Homo sapiens: one gene and its partner. The protein of the gene in region 2 purifies or fractionates together with the protein of the main gene of each other region. This does not show direct contact. Each region holds a gene or a part of one and is shown on either strand. Other genes may lie near its edges.

Evidence for each region.
Region 1: the proteins of PABIR3 (region 2) and DMBT1 purify together in Homo sapiens (affinity purification with mass spectrometry; one large-scale study listed by BioGRID and IntAct). This does not show direct contact.

What each region holds. Positions count from the first base shown.
Region 1 is NC_000010.11:122,581,059-122,584,875, reverse strand, and holds part of DMBT1 (scavenger receptor cysteine-rich domain-containing protein DMBT1 isoform e precursor), read right to left. Parts: intron 3,084-3,817; coding exon 3,051-3,083; intron 2,277-3,050; coding exon 1,953-2,276; intron 555-1,952; coding exon 525-554; intron 1-524.
Region 2 is NC_000023.11:134,827,723-134,831,539, reverse strand, and holds part of PABIR3 (PABIR family member 1), read right to left. Parts: intron 2,315-3,817; coding exon 2,258-2,314; intron 1-2,257.

The DNA of each region.
Region 1 (3,817 bases), on a different chromosome or scaffold from region 2:
ATTTATTATCCCTCTCCCTGCCCGAGCATGGCCTATGCCTCTTCTGGATGCACATGTAGCGCTGCAGAATCTGGGTGTTGGAAGGAGTGAGGAAGGGAGGTGTCAGGCCTGCACTGACATTGCTTGCCCATGGCGGCAGCCATGTTTAAGGCTTTAGCTGACATTGGCTTCCGAGGAGACTTTGGCAATCACTCTCAATTCTCAGGAAGGTCATATCAGCTCTGAATAGAAAAGGGTCAAAGCTATTTAAATATGAGGCCACTTCCTAAACCTCTAAGGGTTGGCCACTGGGACAGTATGAAACTGCTTCATGAAAGCTGAGATAAATGGAACAGAAGACAGAAGCCTCTTGAACCCTATGTCTGGTTCAGAAGCGCCATTCCAGGGTCTCAGTTACAGAGCAGGGGAAAATTGTATGCCATGTAGTATTCACTCAGAGAAGAACGAGGGCTCTGTGGAGTGCAGAAAGGGATAATTATACAGAAAGAGAAGGGACATCCCAAGGAAGGACACTGGGGACTCACCTGGACTGGGCGTCGACCAGGAGTGGGCAGCTGTGAGAAAGAGGAGGTCAGATCAGATGCACTATACAGAAGCTGGCAAAATCGGAACAAAGGTGGAAGGAACTAAACAGATCATGCCTTCAGTCCACCCTAGGTCCCCATCACAGAGGGAGGGCATTGCCATGCATGTCCCCACAGAGATGCTCCTTGGAGGGTGTCTGGGCAGATCCTGTCCACTATTGCCAACTCCAAGGTGATTAACCTTGTGTCTGCCCATAGTAATCAGGTTGACACAAAACCTACCCTCTCCCTTGCATGTCTTAGCAGTCCCTGAGTTAGCAAATGTGAGGAGGCCACTCCAGCCAAAGTCCTGCCTCTGATGTTCCAGTCCAGCCCACAGGCGTTCATAACAATGCTTTGCCTAGCAGACCTCATGGGGACTGCACACTCCACACCAGACCGGTGCACAGGCAAGACACTGCAGTGCTCTGGAGGGAGTTGTGGTCAAGGACTCACAGCCCCCAAATCTCAGGCCAGAGAGGGACAGACACACATCCGCACTCCTAGCCTTGTGTCTCTATTAAGACATCACCTTATTGGGCCTCAGCAGAAGACCGCGCTTCCTAGCAGGAGCCTGTGGTTCTGGGCTCCTCCCAGGGAGACAGTCCCTCCCCCATCCTCTATATGTGCTTCATCCATGTAACCCTTTGCAAAATCTTTCAGTAGGGGAAAGATGGAACCCTGGAGAGCCAGGGTGCTATACTTTAGAGGCTTGTCACATCCAAGTGTTATATTGCAACTGAATCCCCAAGTTTAGAGGTGAGGCCTGATGCACCAGGTCTGGGTCATGGAGACCAACACTGCATGAATAACTTAGTGCCCTCCCTGGTCAGGGGTGAGTTCTTCTCTTAGTTCCTAGCAAGAGCTGGTGGTTGAAGAGTCTGAGCCCTCCCTCTTGCTCTCTCTTCCTTCCTCCCTCACCTTGTGACCTCTGCCCAGGCCACCTCCCCATCCCTTTCTGCTAGGAGTACAAGCAGCCCGAGGCCCTCATCAGAAGCTGAGCAGACGCCTGCACCATGGTCCTATGCAGCCTGCAAAGCCAAGACCCAAATCAGCCTCTTTCCTCATGAACAAACCAGCCCCAGCTATTCCTTTCCAGCCACACTAAAAGGCAAAGACCTGGCACTTTCCTCTTCTCCCTCTGCTTGCGCTGCCTCGGTAGGTGAACAAAGGCGTGACCCTTATTTCACTTTGGCCCGTTGTCCTACCTGACCTCCTCAAAACCTGGCAATGAAGACTCATGCAGTTTCCTAGGAGAGAGCTAAGGAGATATCAGATATATAGGAAAGGCTGAAAAAGCTCTGAGTGAGGAGATCAGAACATAATGAGACCTCGCTTCCTGAGCAAAATCTACCCCAAGAGAGGGAGCCCAAGGTCTTGGAGGCCCACCTGAGCAGATGACACCAGCGTCTTCACTGTGCTGACAGTTATGGGAGAGCCAGCCATTGTGGGGGCAGCTCCACAGGTAGGACTCATAGCCTGAGCAGCGCACGTCATCCAGGACAATGGGTCCTGAACCCTGGCCAAACCGGGCATTTCCTGGGGCTGACGTGGCCCAGCCACAGCCCAGCTGCCGGCAGACCACATTGGCGTCACTGGTGTCCCAGCTATCATCACACACGGTGCCCCAGGAGCCTCGGTATAGGACCTCCACTCGGCCCTGACACCTGTCACCTCCATTCACCAGCCTCAGGGCCAAACTGGATTCAGGTCCTACAGGGGAACACAAGAATCCTTCATCCATCTCCATTCTGAGGTGAAGGAAAAGGCATGGACAACACTCAGGGCAATGGGAAAAGTAGTCAAGTTTGAATACAAATGCCAAAGTCACCAGGGCACGCAGTCACAATGGCAGATGGCTGCACCCAGAGGTTAAGCTTGGTCATAGTGGAAAAAGTGATGCCCTATTCTACTCAAGTCTATAAAAGCTCAAGCTATGGGTAAGCATGTATGACCCCAGAGGAGAGGACAGGAATGGACACCCCACTCCCCACTCTGGGTGAACACAGGATGGAGCTACACAGCTACAAATGACAGGCCTAGACCCCCTCCATATTCAGGAGCTTATTGGCACCTGCATGGGCCTCTCTGCCTTCTGGCAAATTGCCAGTGATGGCAAGGCCTTGGCCACACAGGTGCAGGGACCGGCACTTTCACCCGCTCTTCAGAGGTCTGGATCCCATGGCCTGAGGGCCAGGAATGAGGTCCCAGCAGCATTAAGGAGCCCTCCAGTGCTCGTCCTGAGCACCTGGATGAGGATCTTTCCTGACCACTTGGAACAGGATTCCATGGGAGACAGGTCACCAACACCCTCCGTCCTCAAACATCAGACCCAGGACTGGCTCCTCAGAGATTCCACCTTCCTCCCACGCAACCCACAGGGACATGAAAACAGAGAAGCCCACATTGAGCCTCATCCTATCAGTTTCAAACACAAAATATGTCCAGAGATAGTGAGTCCTAGGGAGGGGTGAGAGGGTTATTTACCTGCTGTTGATGCATGTGAGGTCGGCCAAGTATCTGTAAATTGCAACAAAAGGAAAAGACAGAATTAGACTTGAAGGGAAAAGGCACAGAACAAAAGGATCTCTGGGAGGAGGAATCAACGTGACAACAATTCCACTTCTTGTTCCTGCCATTTGTTTCCCATGTGTCTTCCCAGGTCTCCTGTGCTGTGAACTCATCCAGGGACAAAGGTCCTGCTGGAGACCAGACTGAGCCCTCCATTTCTGTAATCCTGGGGTATCTTTCTATCTGTTAGAGGATGCCCCCACCATGCCATCCCACATCTGCTGATGCATGGACTGACTAGGACATCAGACGCCATTGCTGAAGCTCGGACACTGCCAGGTAAAATGTTAGGGGAACCAGGGGCTGCCCAGGGGACAATCAGGAATCAGGTTTCTGGTTAAGCAGAGACATCACAAACCTTTATTATCCCTCTCCCTGCCCGAGCACAAACTCTGCCTCTTCTGGATAGAAATCTCGGAATCATAATCTCGGAATGTTTCCAGCAGTGATGGATGGGGGTATCGAGCCTGCCCTGACGATGCCTTGAACGGGTCAGAGGGTGACACCCTCAATTTTCAGAAACTATATGTGAGTCCGGAATATAAAAGGACCAAAGCTCATTAAACATGGGGCCACTTCCTGAACCTGTAAGGGTTGTCCACTGGGACAGTATGAAACTGTTTCATGAAAGCTGAGAGGGGTTGAAAAGAAGACAGAGGCCTCCTCAATCCTGTGTGTGTTTA
Region 2 (3,817 bases):
ATATTATTCCCCCCATTTTGAAAAATCAATGCCCTTATTAATGTTGTTAAAGTGAAAGTTCAGAAGGTAATGGGGAGAGAACCAGACATTTCTGTTTTGCACTTAAAAGGTTAAGTTTAATAGGGACAAAGAAGTCAGTCAAAGAATGCATGTAAAGAAATATGCAACTTATGCCAGGCACAGTGGCTCACCCCTGTAATCCCAGCACTTTGGGAGGCTGAGGTGAGCAGATCACTTGAGGTCAGGAGTTCGAAACCAGCCTGACCAACATGGTGAAACCCTATCTCTACTAAAAATACAAAAAAATTAGCCGGGTGTGGTGGCACGCACCTGTGATCTCAGCTACTTGGGAGGCTGAGGCAGGAGAATCCCTTGAACCCAGGAGGTGGAGGTTGTAGTGAGCTGAGACAGCACCACTGCACTCCCGCCTGGGTGACAGAGTGAGACTCCATCTCAAAAACAAAGAAAAAAAAAAAAGAAATATGCAACTTAAGATATCTATCAGACCATTAAACTGCTGAAAATAAGTCTTAATTTTCCATTCAATCAGTATCCAGATTGAAAATTAATGTTTTTCTCTTTTCCCATCTCATTCATTTTCTACTTATATTTCATTTTTAAATATTTATAATACATATTATGTTACTATGGAAATAAACTGCATTAAACTTATATTCCTAACCAGTGTAAATTAGGATTTATATCAAGCTTCACCAGCAAATAGCAACACATAACCCATTTTCAAATATTTGGTTTAATTTAGGAGAAGCAAAGAAACATATTGCACAGATAAACACGAGGTCACTTTACTCCTTTGAACTTGTTTCATTCCTTAAGAATTTCTAAAATAGCTACATACAAAGACAGGAGTAAAAGCAAGTTTTACCCACTAAAAAGTAAAAAAAACAGCCTGGCACGGTGGCTCACGCCTGTAATCCCTGCAATTTGGGAGGCCGAGGTAGGCAGATCACCTGAGGTCAGGAGTTCAAGACCAGCCTGGACAACATGATGAAACCCCGTCTCTACTAAAAATACAAAAATTAGCCGGGCGTGGTGGCAGGCGTCTGTAATCCCAGCTACTTGGGAGGCTTAGGCAGGAGAATCGCTTGAACCTGGGAGGTGGAGGTTGCAGTGAACCAAGATGGAGCCACTGCACTCCAGTCTGGGCAACAGAGCGAAACTCTGTCTCAAAAAAAAAAAAAAAAAAAAAAAAAGGAAAAAAACCATTTTTACCATACTTTCTTGCTAGTGGATAAGCTGACCTTAGGGAAGCCATGCCACAGGGGTGAAAGGGAGAGAGGGAAAAGAAGCAAGAGTTGGAGGACTAATAACTAGGATTACAAGATGGTATTATGGGCTTTGTGCACTGAAACAGGGAAAGGGGAGCTGGAAAATAATCCAGTAATCTGGGGCCAAATCTTGGCTCTGACATTCACCAACTCTGGAGATTGGGTAAATTGCTAAATTTCTCCCCTTTTTAGTTTCTGACCTTATAAAGTTGTTGTAAGATAAAATGAGACCACAAATGTAAAGTACCTGTTAGTACTAAGTGAATAATAAGTTAAGCCTCTCTTGGGGGAAAAAATGTCTGCTTGTAGCTGGGTCAAAGAAAAAAATACCACCTGTGGGGTAGTGGTGATTTGATCTTTTGAGTTCTGTGGCTAATCCTTGGATAATTAAAAGGTTGAATTCTGTATTATGCTTGTGCTATTAAGCATGCATGTGCACATGAGTGCACACCCACCCACCCACATACACCCTCCCAACCACATACACAAACACAAACACACAAACACAGAGACGTGCATGCGTGCACATGGGCACAAAATATAAACCAGTGAGGTACAATGTGTCCCTGAACTCAGATCACTAAGAACAAAACAATAGCATGAAGGCCATTTTATCTGTCAAAAAAACTCATCTGAGGGTTAAAAAAATAATAACTACAGTTATTATGAAGCTGAAAATTAATTTTTATGTGTAGCATTCCACTTTCAGATCCCTGGAAGAAAGAAGCTAGACTCAAGGTATAAGAGTATGCAGTATTTCTAGAAATTATTAATTAATTAAAATAGCTAATAAGCCAAAAAAAGTGCTTCTTAGTTTTGTTTTTTTTTTGAAGAAATCATTCCTAGAAATAAAAACTTAATATTACACGTGACCTCACTTAGAATTACTGAAACATAGGTATTTTCACAAAGAAAAATAAAATTTACTTTTTTAAATGAACAGCTGTCAGTTTGGAAAGTCTTCTTACCTGTTTGATTTGATGAAGGCGGCTGATGGAACCATGAAAGGGAGGAGGTGGCAACAACTGAAATTTAAAATATAGAAGTCAAGCTTGCTTTAATGTTTGTGATTAATTACATCTCAACATTAAGTCAATGTTGAATTACCTAAAATATTTATTTAGTGTCTTATGCATGCCAGCAACAGTATCAGTTAGGTTCAAAGTTAAAAAAAGATCCAACTGGATCTTGACTGAAAATTATACTAATCAAAAATCAACACTTTCCAAAACAGAACAAAATAACTGTTATCATAATAAATACAGAGCAGAACATCAATAGAGGATTTTGTTTGTCTCTACCTTTTCTTTCCTAAGGCACTAGATCTTAAAATTGCCTCATTTTTCTTGCCAGTTTTAGCCCATCATTAAAGCTTAGGTAGAGGTATTACCCAGAACAAAAAGCTGAAACAGTCATTGAATCAGTAGCTAGCTTGCCAAGCATACTGCCCAAAAATCATAAACAGAATAACTACATCAAATATCCTGGAATCTAGCTGGGAAACCAAACTTTCATAATATGAAATGACTCTAAGGTAATCACTTTCAAGTCATTTAGCACATTTTACTCTTGGTTGCTAAGATACTTCTTGTCTAGGTCCTTTCTCTTTTTCGGGGCTACTTTTTCCTTTTCAGTCTTTTCTCAAAGCTTATGAGGACCCACACAAGAGGGGAATGAAAGAATGGAGGGATTTAAAGCTAAGTGTGAAAATGAGGCTTGAAAATTACCTTCAGAATTCATCTGTAAACTCTTTCTGTACCGTGGTTATTTCTTAAAATGCCAGATAATGTGTTTACCATATCTTAGTTTCAAATTCTATCTTAAGAGCACATTGAGTTGTACATTCAAAATATTGAATGAGGCCGGGCGCGGTAGCTCATGCCTGTATTCCCAGCACTTTGGGAGGCCAAGGCAGGCAGATCACTTGAGGCCAGGAGTTCAAGACCAGCCTGGCCAACATGGTGAAACCCCATCTCTACTAAAAATACAAAAATTAGCCATGCGTGGTGGCATGTGCCTCTGATCCCAGCTACTTGGGATTTTTAAGAAAAATAAAAGACCTGGAGGCCAGGCACGGGAGGCTCATGCCTATTATTCCGGCACTTTGAGAGGATCACTTGAGGCCAGGAGTTCAAGACCAGCCTAAGCAAGATGGCAAACACCCACCTTTACAAATATACATATATATATATATATATATATAGAGAGAGAGAGAGAGAGAGAGAGAGAGAGAGAGAGAGCACTGAGCTAGACTCTGAAGATCGAAAGATAAATAAGACATTTTCCTGTCCTTGAGCAAGTCAAAGTCTAAGTCTAGTTAGCAGAAACTAGGTCACAGCCAAATGGCAGAACAGAGTTACGATTTGGGTTCAAAGGACAGAGTTCAAAGGACAGAGAACTCTGTGTGGGTCTTGAGGAAGTCTTCATAGAGGAGTAGCAACTCATTAGATAGAGAAGAGGAGGGAGGACATTTCAAGGAGTGAGAGGAAACACTCAGGCAGAGAGGAATGTTCAGGGAACAGAAAGGT